4 linked regions of the Homo sapiens genome follow. The protein of the gene in region 4 interacts with the protein of the main gene of each other region in a pairwise test. Each region holds a gene or a part of one and is shown on either strand. Other genes may lie near its edges. The genes, in order: CSF2, PIP, PRKAA2 and DNM2.

Region 1 (7,031 bases), on a different chromosome or scaffold from region 4:
AATACGCTGCACTGTGACCCCTGTGGTTTGGTTTCTTTTCCCCTGAACAGTTAGTCTATTTTGCTGTTTACTTTCGGAATGGTTAAATCTCAGAGTGTGAGGGGCAGGGCGTGGGGCACAGGGGCCAAGGCCTCTACAGGGCAGGTGTTTTGCCTGATGCCAGAGTGGGCCTGTTCAGCCAGTGACCAGCCAACCCCCAGGCCTCCCCAGGAAGGGTGGTGCCCTTCTCTGGGATAAGAGTTCCCTGGGCTGGTCACTTGGACTTCCAGGTGAACTTGAGAGCCATTCTCTGGGGTGGGAGCCCTGGAGCATCCCGGGAAGCCCGTCCAGGTGTGCAGAATTCCGCACCTATGCCCGGCTCTCACCTCCCCTCTGCTCTGACAGTGTTGGCCCTTGGATAGTGCCCAACGCCTGGGAGGCCCCCGCCCCCTCTCCACCTCCCCGTTTCCTCCCTCCCCTGCCTCATGGGAAGGCAGGCACCACTGGCATTTGCTCATGGTTAAAAACAAACTAGAACACTGGACAAGTAGAAGCATATTTTTAATAATAATTATTACGGTAAAACATCTTGAATAAATATGGAATATGAACTTAAATAAATAAATAAATAAATATTTTAAAAATATAAATATATAAATATTACTGATTTCTGTCAGTATAAAATATTCCCATTCTTCTGCCATGCCTGTATCAGGGTCAGTGTGGCCCAGGGCAGGTCCAGGCCACTCCCACCATGGCTGTGGCCCACCCCTTGGTCCCTCCAAGATGACCATCCTGAGTTTCTAGCTCTTGTTTCATGAGAGAGCAGCTCCCCGGCTTGGCCAGCCTCATCTGGCCGGTCTCACTCCTGGACTGGCTCCCAGCAGTCAAAGGGGATGACAAGCAGAAAGTCCTTCAGGTTCTCTTTGAAACTTTCAAAGGTGATAATCTGGGTTGCACAGGAAGTTTCCTTTAAAAAAAGAAAAATAAAAAACACTTGAGTCCAGGCAAGTGGGTAACGTGGGGGAAGGAAGCACCAGCATGTTTCTCTACTGCCTCTTAGAACTCAGAGGCCAGGAGGCCCACTCCAGGACACACCCACTGACCTGGGTCAGGTGACGCTGCTGCCACCCACGTGTTCCCCAAGGAGTGCATAGCTCTGCCAGTGGCAGCCAGAGTCAAGGGCCTGACTTAAGTGCCAGCCTGAGGTTGGCCTTCTGGGCAGTCAAACGCCTGCCTTTTTGGTCCCAGGGCAGAGCAGGGCAGCTGGGCTGAGGTCGTCTCTGGGCACCCAGAAGGAGTGGAGTCAAGGCCACAAACTTTGCTCCCTTCCCGCAGGAAGGAGTGCCTGAGGTCCTTGTCCATTCCAAGTAGCCTCCCTTCCTTGATCCTCTGCAATTCAAGCACCCCATGTGGGGCCAGAGGAAAGTCCTGCCAGAAGGTGGCACTTGGGCCTGGGCACTTCCTCTGGGCCTTGGGCAGGCCCCAAGTTTCCTTGGGTTTGCCCTCACCTCTGACCTCATTAACCATAATGACAATAATGACCAGGATAGGAGCAGCTCCTGCTGGGGAGCACTGTGGGCTTCAGCGCTCTGTGGCTCTGACTCCTTGGGATGAAATGGGCTGTCTGCCTCCTCTCTGGAGGGCTAATCATTACATAACTGTTGGCACAGAAACCCCCTGGGGTCCTGAACAGCCACAGCCATAGATCTCTCCCCATGTCGACCCCACCCCCTAGATTAAGACATTCCTGCTGGAGGCCCTGCCGTAGGCACTCACCGGGGTTGGAGGGCAGTGCTGCTTGTAGTGGCTGGCCATCATGGTCAAGGGGCCCTTGAGCTTGGTGAGGCTGCCCCGCAGGCCCTGCTTGTACAGCTCCAGGCGGGTCTGTAGGCAGGTCGGCTCCTGTGGAAAATGTCGTTCGTCGGTGAGCAGTGGCCAAGTGCCCACAGTGGTACAAGAACTCTCCACCACTCCTTTTTGCTGCTGCCCCCAGCCCCCAGGAGTAGGGCTTGGGAGGGGCACAGGCTGGGTCCAGTCATAGACCCTGCCCTGTCCATGGCAGGCACGAACCTGCCCTTCTCACTGCCCCGCCCAGGCCACCCTCAGCGGCACCTGGAGAGGAGCCCAGCCTTAGGGAAGGAGGTGACTCTCACCCCATCATTCAGGGAGAGGGGGGTGGGGCCTCACCTGGACCTGCTGGGTGGGCAAGGGTTGTTCCTGAAACCCCTCTGTGCCTCTCTGTAGTCAGCACTGTCTCAACAGGACTTGGTCTCGGGGCACAGTGAGCGCCCCAAACCCACAGCTCCTGTCTCATGAAGTGACCCCCACTTTACCACCTGTCCCCTGGTGACTCCTGGCCATTGAATGCTAGGTCTGCCCATGGCCGCTCAGCTGATAAAGGAGCTCATGTGACTGCCATAGGGGCACGGCCAGCAGCCTCTTGAGCACCCAGTTGCTACCCCCTCCTCCTGCAGCCAGCTGACTGGAGAGAAAGTGGACAACCCTGTGTGGTGCCATCTAAAATGGAGTCCCCACCTCCACCCCAGGGCAGGGGCTTCTGGAAAGCTATGTCAGAGAGAAGCATCTTACCTGGAGGTCAAACATTTCTGAGATGACTTCTACTGTTTCATTCTGTAGAAAAGGAAAATGTCATGTTATCAAGCTGACAGGCGTGGCCAGTCAGGGGCCAGCTGGGTGGCCTAGGCACAGGCCCACATTCTCTCACTTACCATCTCAGCAGCAGTGTCTCTACTCAGGTTCAGGAGACGCCGGGCCTCCTGGATGGCATTCACATGCTCCCAGGGCTGCGTGCTGGGGCTGGGCGAGCGGGCGGGTGCAGAGATGCTGCAGGCCACAGTGCCCAAGAGCAGCAGGCTCTGCAGCCACATCCTCCAGAGAACTTTAGCCTTTCTCTCTGTGTACTGGGCTCACTGGCAAAAGAGCTCTTAAATACACAGAGGAAATGATTAATGGTGACCACAAAATGCCAGGGAGGCGGGGGAACTACCTGAACTGTGGAATCTCCTGGCCCTTATCAGCCACACATGGGAACGGTGAGCCTTTTCCCTAGGTGGTCAGGCTTGGGGGTTTTCATTAATGAACCTTTCCAAGAACCGACAGCCCACCCACCCGCCTTCCTGAGGGCTCTCCAGCCCTCCCTGGGCAGTCTGAATGGGCCTGAGGCTGCCCCCTCCCTCTGAGGGGCACAGTTTGGACTTCCTGGCCTGGAATGGCTGGGGTGGGGCGTGGGAGACACTTAGATAGGGCTCCCCATCCTGCCTGTAATCCCAGGGGCCTTTGGGCAGGCTATGCCCGCCCTGGTGCCTCATTCTGACTCCAGCCTTCCTCTTCTCTGGCCACTGTGAGAGACTTGAGTGTGAGGGGAGCTCTCACAGACCTGCCCCACTGACAGTTCACATGGGCTCCCACCCAGGACCTGGAGCAGGGGGCAACCTCAGTCCAGTAAGGGGGGACCCCTGCCCCTGTGAGCAGAGGGAATGACCACCATGTGCACATCCAGCAGCGAGACTGCAGCCACTCTCAGCAAGCTTCAGAGGGGGTGTGGCTGGGTCAAGTCGGGACCCAGAGTCTGACTCTTGGCTCTGGAGCCACCTTCCTGAGTGACTCCCCTCTCTGGTTATGTGAACCTTGATTCCCTCTGCAGAGCAGGTTTGCCCCTCTGAGGTTCGGACTACACTCCTATATGTAGCCCCCAGAAGACACCAGGAGCTTCAGGCTGGCTCCAGGGCTGTGGCTGCATCCATCTCAGGTACAGGGACAATGGCTTCCCCAGCAAGGCCCTCCAGGCTTAATTTCCTACATAACCCCAGCATCCCCCAACTCCAGAGGCCTTTCTGTGGAAGTGTGGAAGTAGGAAATCTAAAGGCTCTTGAGGGGCTGACAAGTGTTTGATTTTCACAATGGAGTTCAGAGAAGACAGCACGAGTTTGTGTTTGCACAAGGTATCTGGCTCAAGCTGCCCCATGCCTGGGTTTCATAGCTAAAGGGGTGTGGGCCCACACGTGCCCATTTCTGGGTGTATGTGTGCTGCTGTGATTGGTTGTACATACAGGTGCCTGGTAGAGGGGAGGATGTTTTCCATGCAGATGCATCTATTGAGTCCTCTTACCTGCTTTATGAAAGGCTCCAGGCCTCTGAAGGTGACTCTGATACTGGAGAAGCTCCCTACTCCAGGTGCAGTGCCTCTGGGCCCTAGAGGCTGATTCAGCCTAAACCAGTGGGGTTGGACACAAGCGAGAACATTCTGCTGGACTCAGGTTGGCGAGCCTTCAGAGAGCAGGTGGAGTTCATGGCTTTAGCACTGTGGTCTGAGTCTGCAGCCCTGGCCAGTTTCCCTGTACTGTGGGAGTTTTTCTGACCTTGCATAGAGAAACCAAACCTTAGTCCTCCAGACCCCACTGTGAGGCCAGCCCCATCCATCTGAGCCTGCGTAGAACACTCCTAGTGGCCAGGCTGGGGTGGGAACATGAAATGTCCAGGCCCTGGCCCTTTCTCCACCTTTTTTGCAAGGCCTTGGCTCAGCTCTTTCCAGGGAGCTCTCGGGGGAGAGATGAGGACATGGATACTACATGTAGATATCACATGTGTTGGATAGCACCCTGGAGGCTGGAGGGCAGGGAAGGGAGCCATAGATAGTGGTTCAGCTGATGGCCAGGGAGGCAGAGAGCCTGTATGACCCATCTGGGAGAGAAGGTCACTTTCCTCCTAGAAATGAGTTGTCATAGCTCAGACAGTCAGTCAACAAGTCTTTCCAATCCACACCAGGACCTGTTCTGGGGAGGTAAACGGGACCCTCCCACTGGCCCTCACATTTGGCCCTTGAGGCTCCCAGTCTGGTAGGAAACAGACTGCAATGGACCCTCCCATGGTGTGACCTTGACTCGGCAGGGGGAAGTCCAGAGCTGAGGGATCCCAGAGGGCCACCTTCTCTAGCTTGGGGATCCAAGGGGACCAGAGAGCTTCACTAGAGATCCTGCCTGCAAGCCCAGGCTGAAAGGCTAGAAGTCAGGTGGGTACGTTGGGTTGGAAGGAGAGGGGCAGGAGAGGACAGGGGAGAATGTTCTGGGCACAGGGAGCCCTGGGGTTTTAGGAATGGGTATAAGGAACAGCAGGCAGACTCCAGAGAGATTGAGGAGGTAGAATCTCAACAGGACTTGGTGCTATAGTGAAGTCACTCAGTCATTCATTATTTTTTGAGCATCTACTAGGTTCCCAGCAGGGAAAAGGGACATAAGGATGACAAAAACGGTCAGGGTCCTGCCTCCAAGGACTTTTTAACCCCATCCATGGAGGAGCAAGATTAGTCTACTCACCCCCCTCCCCCCCCACCAAAGTGTGCTTTGAATGTGAGTAAGAGGAGTTAGAATCACTGTCCACATGGCTAAGGTGAGGACCCAGGGGACAAAGGAGCAGATCTTCAGAGCGTGAGGCCCACGGGAAGTTTTGGAGTTTCAGAGTCTGCATGTACAGGAGACAGATCTGGCAGCGGTACATGTCTGTGTGGTAGCTGAGGCCACGGAAGTTATTCAGGAAGAAGAGCTGAGGGCCAGCAAAGCTGTGTTTAAGGGCTGGGACATAACAGATGGGCAAGTAACAGGCCAGTGGCCAAGGGCCTAGGAGGGAAGGAAAGGAGGAAAGCAAGAGTCATAATAAGAAATCCATTTCGGCAGTGGTGGCCTGCAGGTGCCCAAGTCAGCACAAACAGGACAGAAATCCATGGGTTTGGTGATGAGGTTTGTGGGCAGCCACACATCTTTCTCATGGAAAGATGACATCAGGGCTGAGGCCATGACACAGGCAGGCATTCCTAGATTGCACTGTATTTTAAACAGTGTCAACCGATAGCCAGCCATGCTGACTCAGGGGCTCCGATGGGGCTGTGGCAGGGCAGAGGCGGGGACCACGATGGGTGGTATGACCCCTCTGGGGCCCCCCTTCCTACAGAGACAGGAGAAAACCCTCTGGAAGGAGTTTCCTATGCGTGTCCACCCCACAGGCTCTGTAGGAAACAGGGGCTTGAGTCACTCCAGGATCCTTATCACGAGAGACATTATCACAAGGGGAAGGAAATGGGCCTCAAAGTCCCTTCGGTACCATGGCACCCCCGCACAGGCTTTGGGGCTGATCTGATCCTTCTTTGACCTGTCCAACCCTTGATGAGGGTTCTTGTTATCTCTGGGGACCTGAGATCTGGGAGACCAGTGGTCAGCCCAGTCCACACAATCAGTGACCGCAGAACCAGAATTTGAACCCATATCTGTTCCTGCTATCCTAGCATTTTCCATTGTCTTGGGGTCAGGAAGTTGGGAAATGCTGATCACCTGGCTGGACCAGCAGGGGGTGGACCCAGCGTGCTTGTCCCCTCAAGGCAGCTGTAAAGAGAGATGCCTGCCAGGTGTTCGCAGGTAGGCTGGAGTGGCCTGTGACTGTCCCAGGGAAGTCTGGGCTGAAGGCAGAGTTTCCCCAGCAGATCCTGCCATCCAGGCATCTCTATGCCCCAGGCTTGGGCTCTTGCCCTTACCCAGCCACCACCAATCCCTGAAGCCTAGGAAAGTCCCTCCTCCCTGAGCCTCAACCCCTGCATCTGTACAATGGGTTAATGGCCACTGCCTCACCGAGGAAACTGTTGCCTGCCCCAGGAAACTCTGTGGGAGATCCTCCCAGGGAAGAGACAATCCTTCAATTTCTCCTCTGCCCAGTGCTAGGGGAGATTTCTGAAGCCCAAACTGGGCAGAGGAGCGAGGCCTGCTGGAGTTTCCAGGGACAGCTGCCCCTTGCCCAGCCCTAGCCGCAGAGGGCAACCTTCTGGACACACGTGGTGAGGTAGGGAGTCCGGCCTCCACCTGAGTCAGGGCTCCTGGGTCCTGCATCACCGACAGGAGATCCTGGTACCGCATGGCACCATGAGTGGTTTGTCCTTCCCTTGTCACTCCAGGCCACACCAGACATATGAAGCAACATCTCTGGCTTCTGCGGTTTCAGCCCCATTCTGTCCCCACGTGCATCCCCTCTGTCTCGGTCCCCAAATG
Region 2 (7,009 bases), on a different chromosome or scaffold from region 4:
TAACCTGATTTACTACCATAACCTGGTTTTGGCCATGCTCCAAGACCTCATTCTTTTGTAACCTCAAGATGGTACATGAGCTTCTGTACTCCCACTGAGGAGTTGGAGGTCATCATTCTCTCCCATGCACGTTAATAAACTTGTATGCCATTTCTCCTATTAATCTACTTTTTGTCAGTTTATTTCTCAGTGAAACTTCAGAAGGCAGAAAAAAAGTTTTCCCTTGGCCCCTACATCACCAGGGTGACCTTAGAAATGACACTAAAGGCCAGGCATTGTGGCTCACGCCTGTAATCCCAGCCCTTTGGGAGGCCAAGGGGGGGTGGATCACCTGAGGTCAGGAGTTTGAGACCAGCCTGGACAACATGGTGAAACCCCGTCTCTACTAAAAATAAAAATAATTAGCTGGGTGTGGTGGCAGGCACCTGTAATCCCAGTTACTCAGGAGGCTGAGACAGGAGAATCACTTGAACTTAAGAGGTGGAGGTTGCGGTGAGCCGAGATTGCGCCACTGCACTCCAGCCTGAGTGACAAGAGTGCAACTCCACCAAAAAAAAAAAAAAAAAAAAAGGAAGAAAGAAAGAAATGACACTAAAGATGACAGAGTTTCTAAGAAAAGAGTCACACTCCAGCTTCTCTCACCTCTGAGAGATTTTGCTTGGATATAACCTCCTCTAAGAAACAACTCATTACATCTTACATCTTCAGTATGCATTAGATGCCCTTCTACAAGTCTTGTGCCAATTATGCTTTTATTAAGTAAGAGGAAATATAGAGTAGTCACTCTAAGTGCCAACTCCGGATTCACTTCTATCTGGGTTCCAATGGTTTGGCTTAGTCATATGGCCAAGCCAAACTTCAATACCTTTGTTATTTGTTGGCTCTGTGACTTGAACAACTTATTAAAACCTCTGTGAGTTTCCTTTTCTCAACTTTAAACTGTTGCTACATCAATAAATAGACTAGACAAGTGTTTAAGGACATAAACTCTGGTATCAGACTACTTGATTTTGAACCCCTAACTCTGCCAGTTACTAACTTTGCAACTTGTTCTCGCCAGTAGGCAGTGCAGTGGTTAAAGGGTCATGTTCCAGGGCCAGACTGCCAGCGTGGAAATTCTGGCCCCACCCAAAGGTGTATTCGCCATTAAGTTAATGGCATGAAGCCTCAGGGCTTCCTACTTATGGGTGCCTCCTCCAAGATCCTGTACCTGTAGTTTACATTTGTAAGTTTGGATTCTATTTCAAAAAGAGGTTCTCAGATACTGTAAATCAAAACTCAGATTCCACAAAACCTGCTTGCAAAGTTGACTCTGCCATATACTGGCTATATGGTCTGGGTTAGATATTTATCTCCTGGGTCTCTGTTTCTCCTCTTGTAAAATGGAATAAAAATGGCAACCACCTTCACAGGGTTGTAATAAAGATTGAGCTAATATATGTTAAAATGTTTAGAGCAGTGTAATGCACACAGCATATGCTTCATGTGTGTTGGTGTCTATAACTCCCTCTCTGTCCACTCCTTATCTTCTTCTCATGAGCCCTGTCAGGACTAAGATTATCTTTCTCTTTGTAAACTTAGCCTGTGGCAAGCCTCACCTATATTCTAACTCTTTCCCTATGGGACTATACACATTCTCTTCTGTAAGCTTCCTGAGTTGTTTACAATCTGATTTTATCAACCTTTATCTGATTTCTTAAACCTAGACTTGTTCATTCTTTATGGCATAATAATTATGGTTTCTTTTTCTCCCTAATCTTCTTCCTCAAGGGACCTCAAGCTTTTCTCTTAAGACTTTCAACTGATCCAATGAGTCTGACCCATATTATGGAGGTAATCTGTTTTACTCAAATTTTACTGATTTAAATGTTAATCACATTTAAAACAAACAAACAAACAACAACTTCACAGCAACTTCTAAACTGTTGTTTTTCCAAAAAGTGGGCACCATGCCTAGCTAAGCTAACAAATAAAAGTAACCATCACAGCAGTCATGGCCTGAATAAGACTTGTCCTAGGCCAGGCACAGTGGCTCACACCTGTAATCCCAGCAATTTGGGAGGCCGAGGCAGGTGGATCACTTGAGGTCAGGAATGTAAGATCAGCTTGGCCAACATGGTGAAACCCCATCTCTACCAAAAATACAAAAATTAGCCGGGTATGGTGGCACCTGCCTATAATCCCCACTACTCGGGTGGCTGAGGCATGAGAATTTCCTGAACCCGGGAGGTGGAGGCTGCAGTGAGCTGAGATCATGCCACTGCACTCCAGCCTGGATGAGTGAGATTCTGTCTCAAAAAAAAAAGATTGTCCTGTACATTGTAGGTATTGCAGTTTCCTGCTAGCTCACAGAAGAACAGCCTCATTACCTTCAATAGATGCTCTTAACCCATCGTCATCTGCCTTCCTCTGGACACTGCCTTTTGGGAGTGCTGGAGTTGCATCCTCAAGGACAGGGCTATGCCTTCAAAGAGCCAAGCAAAGAACTTTTCCTGCATTTTCCCACACAGACACTTCCTAGATTCTTCTGCCTTATGCCTGCCTTGGTCAGTGTAGCTAGGATGTGCTTCAAATGGAAATTATGCAAGTGAGAAGGACCAGGTGTAAAGACAATTTAATTGTGGGAAAAGGCTTACAAAGGAAGGTCATTGTGACCCTCACAAGCAGTGTTCTTGAGTGGATAGGACATAAACAGGGAAGAAAGCATGTGATCATGAGAACAGCTGAAGTTCTGAGTGAGCAATGACATGAATGGTGTCCAATTCAAAGAAAAGAGAAGGTAGATCCAGGAGCTGAATAAACAGACAGAGCAATTTTGAGAGATACATCCAGAAAGCAGAAGCACACACTTACACTTTAGCTCTGAATCCTGGCTAAAGCAACATACAGAGGCGGTAACTCCTAGAACTCTGATTTTCACTCTGTTGCCAGAGAGGCTCTTCCTGGGCAGCTGTGTGCCATGCAAATGATAGAAACAAATCCCATAGTATTGTAAGTCATAGGTTAAGGAGCAGATTTAATTTCATAAGGAGAAATAACACAATGCCAGTGTCAGCAAGAGCAAGTCTCCCCATCATCCCAAGGAGAGGAATTCTACAACCTGGGTATCTACTGGACATAATGTGGGCTCCATTCTCACAGAAGGAATCCTTTCCACTGTGGTTCTTCCTGTGTGGCTTACGCATGAGACAAGTGTAAGAAAGTGGCCATGTCAATAAGAAAATAAGCCAGCTCTTTGGTGCCAAGAAGTCTGATTTGGGGGTGCCAGCTATTTATAGGAATTGTCTAGAATTAAAATATCACCCTGCCTTGGGGATTGTGGGGCAGCTGGGGATCTTGGACATCTGCAGTATATTGCAACCACACCTGAAATTAAGAAGGACTCAATGACAATAAACATCTTTACATCACCCAGTGTCTTGAACTCACTTCCCCATCATGTAGAGCAGCTCAGGTCTTCTCTAGCTCTTCCACCTCATGATGGGTAGTGACTGCTAGGGAAGTCCTGATCATCCTAGCCCTCCAAGAAATGTTTTGAATAGCATTGCATCTTGAACTCACTATAATTTGATCAAGCAAAGATGTTCTATGTCTCTGGTCTGAAACCTGCCACCACAGCTGTGTTCTCTGCTTTCAGAGACCAGGGGAGCAGTGACTGAAGCTAAGACTACACATAGCACTTCAGACAGGCAAATTAGGAGGGAAAAGAAAACTGAATCTGTAAACTCGGGAAAAACTGGTGTATCTTTTGAGGTCCCAGCCATTTTGAGAAACTCTGATGCTGAAAAAATAAGGAAGAACAATCTGACTCCTCTCTCAAACGCTGACATTCTAGCTGAGTGTTGATTTTTTCTTAGAAAAACAAACTTTGGGTCAACAAGGAAAGATCACGAGTGGGGAGGGTGAATGGGTGATTCACCTCATGGATCTCCCTGGCAGCTCTTGCACTTCCTTGATCAATCTGTATATAAGAAATGTGCTGGGCACCTGGGACACCACTTCTCTGGGACACATTGCCTTCTGTTTTCTCCAGCATGCGCTTGCTCCAGCTCCTGTTCAGGGCCAGCCCTGCCACCCTGCTCCTGGTTCTCTGCCTGCAGTTGGGGGCCAACAAAGCTCAGGACAACACGTGAGCCATGCCCTTCTCCTCCCCACAAAAAAAATTGCAGGGAGGGCTCCTCTCCCAGTCTGGAAATTACATATCTCTTTCTGAGAATTTCTTTCAACTTCCCAGAACTCTAGTCCCAGGAGCTCCCATGGATCTCCTGCCAGGTTCCACTTCTTGTCCTCTTAGGAAGCCCCACCAACTCCTCTCACATTTTTGCTGGGTGTTTCTGCATTGCCAGTGGAAATAAAGCTCCAAATGTACCTACAGGCTGTAATTAGTAGTTAGTCTTCATCTAACATGCTGATCCACATCTTGTTCATAATTTATACCTTTGTTCAGATTTCTGCTCAGTAAACTTTACCTTCTCACACCTTGCCTCCTAGAAGAGAAGCATAACAGGTCTGTGAATTCCAATGGCAGCTTAGGGCAGCTTTGGCAGGACTGGCTAAAGGACCAGAGGCCCTGGCCACTGCCCTGTGGTCTGAGATTGAGCTAGACTGGCAGCTTAGACATTCTTCCTAACCTGAAGTCTGAAGATGAATATGATGACCTCTTGCTCTCACGTATACTGGGACCTGAGAGCACAGGTTCAGAAGTCAACTTATTGAGAACACATGTGTGAAGGAAGCAGAAAAATTGGAGCAAGTAAAATAAAGTAGAAAATGGAGCCAAGGGTCTGGGAGAAAGCAGCGATACCCAATCTAGGGAGTTTTCTCTATAGCAGTAGGGTTTATAATGCTGGGTTTCTGGGTTGTGATCTTGGAGGTACTCTCTATGGCATGGTCAGATATCCTGTCCTGGAGGAAACTGTTCAGGGTTTTGACAAGCTAATGTAATGGAGGCAAGTGTCCCAAGAAACCCTGCATGGGGACAGGTTCAGATCCCACCCCATTCCCGCCAGATGACAGTCCACTTAGCCCTGAAGGGCAGCAAGGTATTCAAATAAGCTATGCTAATTAGGTTATCAACCATCCATCCTGATTTGCCCAGAACTTTCCTGGTTGTAGCACTGCAACTCTGCCCTCCCCCGCCACCTCCACAACCCATTCTGGAAAAGACCTCAGTCCTGGGTAAACTGAGATGGTTAGTCACTCGAACTAAGCTGGTCATCCTATCAATCTGAAACTCATATACAAATGGGAGAGATTTTGAAGTTGCTTAGGTATTTATACCCTTTTCCTGTGCACTGGGCACTACAGCAGTTGGCACCAAAAAATAGAATCTCTCTAAGATGCTTTGCCCCAAGAAAATGGGGCTGTGAGACACTGTGGGCTAAGAATCTCAATTCCCTTCTGTCCCACACAATAACAAAGGTCCGTAGCCGGGAGTTTCTAGGGACGAGAAAATAACTCTCCTGGCCCCGAACCCAGTCCTCATTGACTGAAGAAGAACATTTGACCATTTTATTTGTCTCCATTTCCTTTCCTTTTCAGATTGCAGTGTATGGTCTAAATGTAGAGTAGTATCTAAAGTTCCCAAACATGGCCATATGTCCAAATTTCCTAAGGAGCTAAATAAATACAAATTCCTAAACCCTACCTGGGGACCACAGAAGGAGGATCTTCAAAGATGCTCCTACAAATACCTCCAGTGCATTGAGATGTTTGCTGGGTTTTTAAAATTTTTTATTATTTTATTTTATTTTTCCATAAGTTACTGGGGTACAAGTGGTATTTGGTTACATGAGTAAGTTCTTTAGTGGTGATGAGATTTTGGTGCACCCATCACCCGAGCAGTATACACTGCACCATATTTGTAGTCTTTTAGCCCTCACCCCTCTCCCACTCTTCCCCGCAAGTCCCCAAAGTCCATTGTATCATTCTTATGCTTTTGAGTCCTCAAAGCTTAGCTCCCACATATCAGTGAGAACATACGATGTTTGGTTTTCCATTACTGAGTTACTTCACTTAGAATAATAGTCTCCAATCTCATACAGGTCACTGCAAATGCTGTTAATTCATTCCTTATTATGGCTGAGTAGTAGTATTCCATCATATATATATATATATATATATATATATATATATATATATATATATATATACCACAGTTTCTTTATCCACTCGTTGATTGATGGGCATTTGGGTTGGTTCCACAGTTTTATAATTGTGAATTGTGCTGCTATAAACATGTGTGTGCAAGTATCTTTTTTGAATAATGACTTCTTTTCCTCTGGGTAGATACCCAGTAGTGGGATTGCTGGATCAAATGGTGGTTCTATTTTTAGTTCTTTAAGGAATCTCCACACTGTTTTACATAGTGGTTGTAGCAGTTTACATTCCCGTCAGCAGTATAGAAGTGTCCCCTGATCACTGCATCCACGCCAACATCTACTGTTTTATGATTTTTTGATTACGGCCATTCTTGCAGGAGTAAGGTGGTATCGCATTGTGGTTTTGATTTGCATTTCCCTGATCAAGAGGTTTGCTGGTTTAATGTGATTCTGTTGCTAGAAAATTTTCTCCTAATAATGACTTGAGCCCTCCTACTCAGTAGACAACCACCAGAGCCTGTAGGATGTTATCAGGAAGTGGCATGTGGTATTGTACATTTTTTCTTTTTAAAAACTTGTTTTTGGTCAATGGAAGGGAAGAAGATGCTCGTTCATTGATGGGCATTTGGGTTGGTTCCATGATTTTGCAATTGTGAATTGTGCTACTATAAACATGCATGTGCAAGTATCTTTTCTAAATAATGACTTCTTTTCCTCTGGGTAGATACCCAGTAGTGGGATTGCTGGATCAAATGGTAGTTCTACTTTTAGTTCTTTAAGGAATCTTAAAGTGTCCTAGTTGTTTTATTAAACAAAATTAAATCTGTGTGAAGTTACCAATCCAATCAACACATGAAAATTCCAGGGGATTCCAATGCTGAACAATTGATCCAAGCCCCATAATTTCC
Region 3 (4,556 bases), on a different chromosome or scaffold from region 4:
AAGCCACTTGTTGCTGGTTTTGAAGATGAAGGGAGCCAAGGGCCAAGGGATGATGGCCTCTAGAAGCTTTAAATGATTCCTAGCCAACAGCCAAAAAGGCAACAGGGACCTCAATCCTACAGCACCATGGAATGAAATTCTGCCAACAACTCAATGCAACTGGAAACAGATTCTCCTCCACAGCCCAGCCCTATCAATGCTTTGGTTTTCAGCTTGTGTGACTTGAGGCAGAAAAACCAGCTAAGCCTGCTGGGTTTCTAACATATAGAACAATAAAATAATTTGTATTTTAAGTCGTTAAGTTTGTAGTAATTTGTTACAGCAACAGTAGAAAACCAATGCAATAACTCAAGTTAAAAACTATAATGTACAACTAAGATGACAAAAATGAAAAAAGATGGTGTGAAATCACCAATGAGTATAGGCAATCTTTTCCACTAACAACTTTCCTGTAACTATTAGTTGGTGTGCAGAATACCAGCATAATGATGGAGCAGAAACAAAAATAGCTTTCAAATGAATCAGAGACTTTTAATTTGATTTTGTGAAAAAAGCTTATAAGCAATCAGACAGGCTGCTTTTCTCCTTTGTGTTTGTTACCTATGAGTTTCATATGGTGCAAACATTAATTAGGAAGAATCTGTAACTATGAAATGCTATGTAATTCAGGAAGACATCTTTTCCATATGGTTAATGAAAGACAAATCCTTCCCATATCATTTAACACTCACAAAAAGTATATAACAAACAAAACTGAAATTTGAATCGGAGTTTATTTGAACAGAAAAGCACTGGAAGTCTGTTCATTTTTTTTTCTTGAAACCAATTATAAAAAGTGGTCCCAATTTCAACAATTAAAAAAAATTTTCAATAAATACGTAATGAAGTACTTCAATGGGTCAATGTATCAACCTATGGATTTTTTTTTCTTTTTCAAAGGTATGCTAAGAATGAATGAATGCAGGATGTTTTTGAAAAAAAGTAAATATTATATCCTATATTATGATTGTCATGACACAACCAAATGGCTGTTTTCAGTTTTATTTGTTGCATTCAAAATCCACTGTATATTTAAGCATACATGACAAAGAACACAACCATTCTTCCTAAAACAATAAAGATACTATCCTTAGAGTTCACAGTTCTACAACAACTTTACATTAAATGTTCAAAACATTGTACAACCACAGATATTTGTGAACAGTCTTGAGAGCTGTATTTTGGTACATTAAGGCAGCTTCAGCCAACATTTTAAGAGATTCTGAATATTTGTTACAACACAGGACAAGTTTGATATTTGAATACTTGAGGTCTCAAGAAATATTAAATGTCACCTAACAACACCACAATTTGTGAAACTGTGATCTTACCTAAAAATCAAGATACTCATCCTATCAGTATCAAAGATACTTATTTTTTTTAAAAAAAGGAATTTACATTGAATGTGGGGATATAAACCCTGTATTTAAACAAGGGCTTTCAAACAGTTGCTCACACACATCTGTGAGGTAGGTTATTATCCACATTTTGTAAATCAAAAAACTAAATGAGGTTACGTGACTTGCTGCTGCTTCAGCAGCCAAAGGAAGAAACTGATTCCAAGTTAGATTTTGTTCTTAGCTCTGAGTTGTTTCCTTGACAAACTTTTTAAAGGGTTAAAATATAAAAACTGCCATTCATCAAATTCATTTATAAAGCATGAGAAGGTAGCCAAATGTTATGTTTACCAAGGTGACTTATAAAGTCAATCAACATGAAAGAAATAGGAAAATACATTTAGTGAACAACTTCTGATAGTGATAGGGAGAGGTTTGACCAAGGGAACTCAATCAGGCAGATGCAAACAACATGATCATTTGTAGGAGGCAGATCTAAGGAGAACTGAGAGGGATTAGAAAAAAAGAAAATATAGTTTAAACAAGTTTTTACTATTACTCTTCTTATAATTTAAGGGAGAAGGCACAATTTAGTGTTTTTTTTTTTTTTTTTTTTTAGAACAGTGGATCTCTCTTCCACTTTAGGAAAATGTTATCTGTCTAGAAAAATGGCCATTTTTGGTAGCAAAACTTAAATGTGTAACTGTGAAAAATGCACGTTTAAATTAGTAGAAAAAAAAATAACAATGCAATTCTCCTTGGCTAGAATGTTTTTGTTCCTCCTTGAAATTTTAAATCAACACAACGTAGCAACCCTCCCTGCCCACCTCAGAAAAGGTCACACTGTATGCACTGTATGAACCTTGTCAAAATTCTACGTATTATTCAAAAAAGTTTTCATGCCAGGATATTCTCCAAATTCTTTTTTCATTTTTTTTTCTGGAGAGTGCTCTATTCTAGGATTTAATTACACTTCAAACGTAATTGAAATTTACCTACCCTGCTTGTCCAAACAATCAAGAGCCACTTCCATAAAATCTAAACTACTTTAGATATAAACCATTTTTACCAAAAGTCACATCATAGTCACAACTGCAAACTGGCATTGCTATGCAAGGCTGGCAGTAAACATTAACATTAGCTTGCAAAATTAATACAGGCCTACAGTCTGATAACTCTTCTAGACCCAGCCTGATTCTTATCAGGCTATGGATGAAGAAGTTTAATTAAAACTCAATCCAGTCTAGACTGTGTGACCTGTTCTTTGTGCTATTACTGTTCAGTGGCATCAAATGCATCATAATTATAGGTGGAAAGGCTAGTAATGATGCCAGCAACTTGTTTAAATGAAGTTTTTATAATTTTTAAAGCTCAAACATAAGTACATTTCAAAGTTTTATAAGGTTTGGGAGAAACTCTATCAAGCTAATAATTCAGTGTTTGTAAATTAGAAATATATTCTATGAAAATAGTTATATCATGTAATATACATACAAAATGAAAAATCAATCTGCATATGAAATTTGGATAAGACTAATTCAGATAATAGTCAAAAACTATAACAATTTAGACAGGGACTGGGGCTAGTTTTCTTTTTCCTTTTTTTGTTTTTTTTTGAGACAGTCTTGTGCTGTCACCCAGGCTGGCATGCAGTGGCATGATCTTGGCTTATTGCAATCTCTGCCTCCCAGGTTCAAGAGATTCCCGTGCCTCAGCCTCCCGAGTAGCTGGGATTACAAGCAGCCTGTCACCACACCGGATAATTTTGGTATTTTTAGTAGAGACGAGGTTTCACCATGTTGGCCAGACTGGTCTCGAACTCCTGAACTCGGGTGATCCACCCACTTTGGCCTCCCAAAGTGCTGGGATTATAGGCATGAGCCACTACACCCAGCCTAGTTTTCCTTTTTCAAAAATGATTGTGCTATAAGAATCACATAAAATTATAAGAAGAATCATGTTTTAAAGTTTCTTCAGCATTTTTAAGCACCCTCAATAACTCAGAAATACTTATAAAAACCAATATGCTAATCATAAATACTTCAGATAATTACATCTCGTTAGTACAATCAACTGCTTAAAATAAACTAAGAACTATTTATTTAAGACTACTTTATGTCACTCTAAGACTTGAAAGCAATACATCTGTGTTTATTTTTACTACTCAACCACTCTGATGTTTTATTAATTCAGACTGTTCTTCCCCAGAGGAAAGGTGGTTTCCTATAAAGAGCAATTGATCACTGCTGGATACTTGTATGGTGTTAAAGCTTTATGAAGAGCTTTCTGGTCCTGCTTCCTCATCTGGAAATGGCAAAAATGCTTTCTCTGGTTACCTCTCAAAGTTATCGTAATAGTAAGTAAACAATATGAAGGGTCTCTAGATCGAAAAATCACTATAAAAAATATATGGAACACTTTCATCACTCCAAATTTGTAATGCTTTGCTTCATGCCAAATGGATGTGATGTTTCACCGTGTTTGGTTTTCTGGATGATTTTTGCCATTTGCATTCCTCCAGCAGCTGTATTTAGAAAAATATTCAAGTATATACCTCTGACATGCCTCACCAAATCAAAACAGAAACATTCACACTCATATAAAAACTCTAAATATATAAAAAGTGAACACTAACACAAATCATATGGAAAAGCAGAAAAGAACTTTAAAGCTCAAAGGTACCTTAGAAGTGTTAAAATCTACCTTTCTCATTTTAGGAGTTATAAAAATGAGGCCAAACATAGGATGTGACTTACCAACAGATTGCACATATCCCTCGTCCAGAGTTTTTAATAGAGTCTTTGAGAACTACTATTAAAATAAATTACATTCCCTATTTAAAAAGCCACAGGGTGACACAGGAGAACCAAGTAAATAAATGCAAGATTGAAAAGGTTTGGGTCTTAAAAACAAATAAACAAAAACAGACAAAATTGTGAACATGTCTAGCATTTAGACACTCAGCTTTTACAACCATTAATAGGATGTAAATTAGTACCCGGTGAATAGACAAAGTGGTGTCTGTGGCAGGCATGTTCCAGGTTTTTACATTTTATAAATCCAAAGTGAGGTGCCTACATTAACTCAGTACACTGCACATTATTCAATGCTACAGATAAATCCAAACAGATCAAAAATCTACAATAGTTGCTTATGATTTTTTCTAAACTATGTCTCATT
Region 4 (7,034 bases):
AGATTCTGGTGTTCAAAGGGTGGTGATTCATTCAAATTTGTTGTTGCTGTTGTTGGACACAAGGTCTTGCTCTGTCGCCCAGGCTGGAGTGCAGTGGCATGATCATAGCTCACTGCAGCCTCAACCTCCTGGGCTCAAGTGATCCTCCTGCCTCAGCCTCCCAAAGTGCTAAGACTACAAACAGGTATGGCCTAGGGTGCCTGGCCTCCTTCTCATTTTTTTTTTTTTTTTTTTTTGAGATGGAGTCTCGCTCTGTCAACCAGGCTGGAGTGCAGTGGCACGATCTTGGCTCACTGCCATCTCCATCTCCCAGGTTCAAGTAATTGTCCTGCCTCAGCTTCCCGGGTAGCTGGATTACAGGCACCCGCCACCATGCCCGGCTACTTTTTGTATTTTTCTCTCTCTCTCTCTCTCTTTTCTTGAGACGGAGTCTCACTCTGTCGCCCAGGCTGGAGTGCAGTGGTGCACTCTAGGCTTACCACAACCTCTGCCTCTTGGGTTCAAGCGATTCCCCTGCCTCAGCCTCCTGAGTAGCTGGGATTACAGGCGTGAGCTACCGTGCCCGGCTAATTTTTGTATATTTAGTAGAGATGGGGTTTCACCATGTTGGTCAGTCTAGTCTCGAACTCCTTAGCTCGTGATCCGCCCGCCTTGGCCTCGCAAAGTGCTGGGATTACAGGTGTGAGCCACCGCGCCCAGCCTAATTTTTGTATTTTTAGTAGAGATGGGGTTTCACCGTTTTGGCCAGGCTGGTCTTGAACTCCTGACCTCAAGTGATCCGCCCGCCTTGGCCTCCCAAAGTGCTGGGATTACAGGCGTGAGCCACCGCACCCAGCTACCTCCTTCTCATTTTTAGTTCTCCACTCACATTGTTGATCATGAGGTGCATGATGGTCTTTGGCATGAGGTCGCGGATGGACTTGTTGATGATGGCCACGTATGAGTCCACCAGGTTGCGAATGGTCTCCACCTGCCGCTCCAGTTGGGGGTCCATGGAGAAGGTGTTCTCCTGGGCCCCATCCTCGTTTTCTGCCTGCAAGCGGGAGGGGAGGTGCTGAGGGGTGACTGTGGCCTGGGCCAAGTCCTGGTTCTCTGGAAACCATCTGCCCTATTGTCCCACCAATAACTGACCTCAGGCTGGCCCCTGACAGCCCCACTGGCACCAGATAGGCCTGCTTGCCCTGGGCCAGAGCTGCCCAAACAATGGGGTGACCCTGGCTGATGCTGGGGTGGATCCCCTCACCTGGGCATTGGAACGTTGTTTTTTTGTTTTGTTTTTTTTTGACACAGTCTTGCTATGTCACCCAGGCTGCAGTGCAGTGGCACAAACACAGTTCACCGCAGCCTCAACCTCCCAGGGAGAGCTCAAGTGATCCTCCCACCTCAGCGCCCTGGAGTAGATGGGATTACAGGGGTGCGCCACCATGCCTGGGTATGTTTGTATTTTTTGGAGAGAAGGGTTTTGCAACATTGCCCAGGCTGTTTTCGAACTCCTGGGCCCAAAGGATCTGCCCACATTGCCTCCCAAAGTGTTGGGATTGCAGGTGTAAGCCACCACACCCAACCTTGGGACATTTTATTTTATTTTTGAGATGGAGTCTTGCTCTGTCGCCCAGGCTGGAGTGCAATGGCGTGATCTCAGCTCACTGCAACCTCTACCTCCCGGGTTTAAGCGATCTCCTGCCTAAGCCTCCTGAGTAACTGGGATTACAGGCACGTACCACCATGCCTGGCTAATTTTTGTAGTTTTAGTAGAGACGGGGTTTCACCATGTTGGCCAGGCTGGTTTCGAACCCCTGAGCTCAAATGATCTGCCCACCTCAGCCTCCCAAAGTGCTGGGATTACAGGGGCGAACCACCCACCGTGCCCGGCAAGGCATTTTAATATTGGGGCCAAGGGTGGCCATGTTCACTCTACCTCAGGATGGAAGGGGAAAAGAGAAGAGAACAAAGCAAGTGGGACCCCATCCCCTGTGTGCCCCGGTCACTGGCTTCCGTGAGGGAACTTTCTGGGCCCTGATGACAAAGTACCCCCAATTTCTCCTTTGCTTGCTCAAGTGGGCATCTGCTACATGATTTCAGAGACTCCTGGCTAACATGGCCTGAAAATGACCTGTCCTGGGGAAAGCCAGCCCTGCTTCCTCTCCCAGGTGGGGGCTCTGGGCCTGGCTGCGCAGGACGGCTCCTCACCTGGTCCTTCTCGGGGTAGACGCCAGCTCGGAGGAACGAGGCCTTCCAGCTGTCCACGTCTTCCTGGGAGTCACAGGCCAGCTCGATCTGCCGCAGGTCCTTGTAGACGTTTCTGCGGGGGGGTGGGGAAGGAGGGGCACAAGCTTGACCCTGCCATGGGTCTGGCAGACTGCCGAGAGGAATGGGCTCTAGGGGTCTTTCTGACTGATCAGGAACCCAAACCCAACCCAGGCTTCACCTGGTCATGCTGAGGGGTCACCGTGAGTGACGCCTACACAGAAGAGCGCTGTGCACAAGCTCGGCAAGTGTCTGAGTTTCTTTGTTTCTGTTGGATCAGCTGACTCTTCTCTTTTCCTGGGCCCCCAGAGGTGGGCATGTGACCCTCGACACCAACTGTGGCTGGGAAGCTCCCACTGGGGCATTTTCAGGAAAGCCCAGAGCAGCACTGTCCACCAGAACTTTATTATTATTATTATTATTTATTTTTTTTTTTTGAGACGGAGTTTCGCTTTTGTTGTCCAGGCTGGAGTGCAATGGCGCAATCTCGGCTCACCGCAACCTCCACCTTTCGGGTTCAAGCGATTCTCCTGCCTCAGCCTCCCGAGTAGCTGGGATTACAGGCATGCGCCACCACACCTGGCTAATTTTAGTATTTTTAGTAGAGATGGGGTTTCTCCATGTTGGTCAGGCTGGTCTCGAACTCCTGACCTCAGCTGATCCGCCCACCTCGGCTTCCCAAAGTTCTGAGATTACAGGTGTGAGCCACTGTGCCCGAATGTGTTTTGTTTTGTTTTTGAGACAGAGTCTTGCTCTGTCGCCCAGGCTGGAGTGCAGTGGCGCGATCTTGGCTCACTGCAAGCTCCGCCTCCCGGGTTCACACCATTCTCCTGCCTCAGCCTCCCGAGTAGCTGGGACTACAGGCACCTGCCACCACCCCAGCTAATTTTTTGCATTTTTAGTAGAGACGGGGTTTCACCGTGTTCGCCAGGATGATCTCGATCTTCTGACCTCGTGACCTACCTGCCTCGGCCTCCCAAAGTGCTGGGATTACAGGCGTGAGCCCCCGTGCCCGGCCTGTGTGTTTTTTATAAAAAAAGTTTTGGCTGGGCACAGTGGCTCACGCCTGTAATCCCAACACTTTGGGAAGCTGAGGCAGGAGGATCAACTGAGGTCAGGAGTTTGAGACCAGCCTGGCCAACATGGTGAAACCCCGTCAATACTAAAATACAAAAAATTAGCTGGGAGTGGTACTGCATGCCTGTAATCCCAGCTACTCGGGAGGCTGAGGCAGGAGAATCGCTTAAACCTGGGAGGTGGAAGTTGCAGTGAGCCAAGATTGTGCCACTGTCTCCAGCCTGGGCGACAGAGTGAGACTATGTATCAAAACAAAACAAAAAAATTTTTGTAAAGTTTAGGCATGGTGGCTCATACCTGTAATTCCTGCACTTTGGGAGGCTGAGACAGGGGGATTGCTTGAGCTCAGGAGTTGGAGACCAGCCTGAGCAACACAGCAACACCCCCATCTCTACAGAAAATACAAAAATTAGCTGGGCATGGTGGTGTGCGCCTGTAGTCCCAGCTACTCGGGAGGCCGAGGCGGGAGGATCACTTGAGCATGGGAGGTGGAGGCTACAATGAGCTGAGATCATGCCACTGCACTCCAGCCTGGGTGGGTGACAGAGGAAGACTCCATCTCAAAAAAAAAAAAAAAAGAAAAAGAAAAAGAAAAAAGAACCAGGGTCTCAAAGCTGGGAGATAAATGGAATGGATGCTAAACAGTGCTTGCAGATGGTGGTCTACAGGCCAGGCCCCGTGCCACATGCCACGCACATTTTCCTGTCCCACATCCAGGTGTGGTTAAGACAGCCAAGCTGCCCACAAAGCCTTTAAGTGAGAGTTGGGTTTGTGGTCAGCAAGTGGCTGCCCCGAACGACCTCTGGATGAGGTTGTGTGGGGAGAGGCATGCCCTTGTAGCTCCTCCTCTCCTTCCTGCTGCTGCCTGGGACATCATCACAATGGCTGGAGTCTGGGCAGCCATTTTGGACAAAGAAGTAGAAGTCGGGGTTTTGGGCCAGGTGCAGTAGCTCACACCTGTAATCCCAGCACTTTGGGAGGCCGAGGTGGGTGGATCACCTGAGGTTGGGAGTTCGAGCCCAGCCTGACCAATATGGAGAAACCCCGTCTCTACTAAAAATAAAAAATTAGCCAGGCGTGGTGGTGCATGCCTGTAATTCCAGCTACTTGGGAGGCTGAGGCAGGAGAATCGCTTGAACCCAGGAGGCAGAGGTTGCGGTGAGCTGAGATCGCACCATTGCACTCTAGCCTGGGCAACAACAGCGGAACTCCGTTTAAAAAAAAAGTCAGGATTTCATGGCAGGCCTGTCCCACCGCAGAGCTCGGCTTCTGCATATCAGGTGGAATCCTGAGGAACATGCAGGGCCTGGACCCTGATGCCTGTGGAGCTGCTCCACTTTGCCCGGGATACTAAAGTCTGGACTTAATTTACACAAAAAACTATCAACCATCTTATCTTGTTTTTGCAGCTACTACTCTGGGTTTCCTGAACCTGCTCTTAAAAGATATATCAGATAATATTGTCACCCTCCCTGTACAGGAGGCACACGGCTCAGGGACCTGGGACAGCTGCCAGGTGTCATATGGCCAGGGGCAAGCCTAGAAGAGCTATGAAGGTTTTCACGGCCAGCTGGTGGACAAATGGGTCTCGAGCTTTAGGCCAGCCAGAGCAAAGCAGGAGGGAACCAGGAGACTCAGCTGGAGTTGGTGGGTGTAGCCAAGCAGTAGGCAAGGAGGTTCTGGGGCCAGCAGGGAGGACGTCAGTGCCTGCCTACAGGTCTCAGGGTACCACCGGGCCTTTACTGACAGCTAATCCCTGACTCAGGTGGGCCCTGCTTCCTGGATGAGCGTGATTGTGTGAGCATGGGAAGAGCCCTCCTGCCAGCTGGGTTTCTTCCTGAGAGCAGTGTCTCTGCTAAAGTCTCCAGCTACGCCTCATGGGACAGATGTACTGTGAGCTTCCTGGGGCCTCCCATTCTCCAGCTTCACTCTCCTGGGAGCTCATCTGGTTTCGTTCCTTGAAATACCATCCACGCAATGGTGACTGCCCAGTTCACATCCCAGACTGGAGCTCGTTCCTGGACATCACACTCCTCGATCTACCCAGGTGCCTCCCTGATGCACCCTCTCCCTTGGCATGGCCTAAATGGAGCTCTTGGCTGTCTCCAGGCCTACCTGCCGCTGCCTTCCCCACCTCGGCCAATGGCAGCAGCTGGGCAGTGCAGGAGCTCAGGCCCACGTACTCAGGGTCACAATTGGTGCCTTTCTCTCTCATATCCATGCCCACCAGGGCTCCGCCTGACTCTTCTACCCAGAATCTGCACCCTCCTTCCCTATGGGTTCTGGCCCCATCATCGCCCACTTGGACAAGGCAGCGGCCTTTGCCCTCGTCCCCCATCTCTCACCCTCTCATACTGTTTCCCTCTCAGCCACCAGAGGGCTCCTGCAAGCACCTGAGCCAGGTCCTGGTCACCCTGTGCTCAGAACTCTCCATGGCTCCCACTGACTCGGAGCCTGCCTTCATCCTCATCTCTGCCCAGAGAGGTCATCTCTGACCCAGCACGGGAAGCATCCCTGGCATTTGCTATTTCTCACGTGACTCCCCTTTCTAAAAGCTGGGTCCCAAGGGCAGGGACTGCTGACAGCCAGGTGCTCAGTGCTCAGTGAAGGTTGTGGAGTGTGAATGAGGCCATTGGTCTTCACCCCGAGCCATCCCCAGGCCCCTGGGCCCCTCACCTCTGCTCCGTGTTGAAGATGGCGAAGACGTGCTTGTTGGACATGAAGCCCTTCTCCACATCACGGATCTTGAGGTTGTCCAGAGGCAGCATGTACTTCTTCTCTTTCTCCTGAGGGTGGAGGGAAAAGAGTCACCCTGAGCGGTCCACGTGACAACTCAGGATGCCCCAGGCCAGAGCGTGTAGCATGCGCCACCACCAGCCCCGGGGGCTTCTCAATGCTGGTCGCTGCTGTATATGAGCCCATCTGCCGGCCCTTCCCCGTCCGTCACTCTGTCCCAGCCACGCTGCCCTCCATGATGCTCCCTGAGTATCCCACCTGGGTTCCTACCCCAGGGCCTTCGGACGACCGGGCTACTGCCTGATCCTGACACTTGCATGGCTCCCTCCTGCCCTAACTCTACCCGCACCCTCCCCACCTCCATCCTCCTTTTCCCTCACACAACACGTCACGTATCCTGCGCTTGTTGACCTAGGTGCCTGACTGCCTGTGCTTATTGACCTAGGTGGCTGACTGCCACTGGACTGACTCAAGTTTCTCCAGGGCAGGGACTCCTGTTGAGTTCACTGCTGACATGTGGCTGACGGCACGCACAACACAACTGCCCCTCGCCTTGCACGAAGTGAATGGAACTTTTATCTGGGCTCCATCTTTGAAACGAGCCTAGGAGTGAGTTACCTCTGTGATGCCATTTTACAGAGGGGAAGACTGAGGCAGAGAGGAGCAGGGCTGGGATTTCAACCTTGGCCGCTTTAGGACATCTTGGGGCTGGATAGGTCCTGGGCCAGGTGCTGCAGAAGCCTTACTCCCTTTCTTTATTATTATCATTATCATTATTTTAATAGAGATGGGGTCTCGCTATGTTGCCCAGGCTGGTCTTAAACTCCTGGGTTCAAGCGAGCCTCCCAGAGTGCTGGGATTACAGGTGTGCACCACCGCACCTGCCCTATCACTTGCTTTCTAAGGTTGGCCCTGTTCAGGAAGCACCAAGTGCCAGCCACGGCTGTCCAGACTGCTAGGGAGGCAGCTCAGAG

Evidence for each region.
Region 1: the proteins of DNM2 (region 4) and CSF2 interact in binary tests that used the Homo sapiens proteins (3 or more experiments, as listed by UniProt).
Region 2: the proteins of DNM2 (region 4) and PIP interact in binary tests that used the Homo sapiens proteins (3 or more experiments, as listed by UniProt).
Region 3: the proteins of DNM2 (region 4) and PRKAA2 interact in binary tests that used the Homo sapiens proteins (3 or more experiments, as listed by UniProt).

The regions. Positions count from the first base shown.
Region 1 is NC_000005.10:132,069,663-132,076,693, reverse strand, and holds CSF2 (granulocyte-macrophage colony-stimulating factor precursor), read right to left. Parts: upstream 2,906-7,031; 5' UTR 2,871-2,905; coding exon 2,712-2,870; intron 2,614-2,711; coding exon 2,572-2,613; intron 1,885-2,571; coding exon 1,759-1,884; intron 950-1,758; coding exon 842-949; 3' UTR 524-841; downstream 1-523. UniProt on the Homo sapiens protein: Cytokine that stimulates the growth and differentiation of hematopoietic precursor cells from various lineages, including granulocytes, macrophages, eosinophils and erythrocytes.
Region 2 is NC_000007.14:143,128,083-143,135,091, forward strand, and holds the start of PIP (prolactin-inducible protein precursor), read left to right. Parts: upstream 1-3,994; 5' UTR 3,995-4,034; coding exon 4,035-4,129; intron 4,130-7,009.
Region 3 is NC_000001.11:56,711,286-56,715,841, reverse strand, and holds the end of PRKAA2 (5'-AMP-activated protein kinase catalytic subunit alpha-2), read right to left. Parts: 3' UTR 507-4,556; downstream 1-506. UniProt on the Homo sapiens protein: Catalytic subunit of AMP-activated protein kinase (AMPK), an energy sensor protein kinase that plays a key role in regulating cellular energy metabolism.
Region 4 is NC_000019.10:10,819,056-10,826,089, reverse strand, and holds part of DNM2 (dynamin-2), read right to left. Parts: intron 6,111-7,034; coding exon 6,001-6,110; intron 2,303-6,000; coding exon 2,191-2,302; intron 1,034-2,190; coding exon 869-1,033; intron 1-868. UniProt on the Homo sapiens protein: Catalyzes the hydrolysis of GTP and utilizes this energy to mediate vesicle scission at plasma membrane during endocytosis and filament remodeling at many actin structures during organization of the actin cytoskeleton.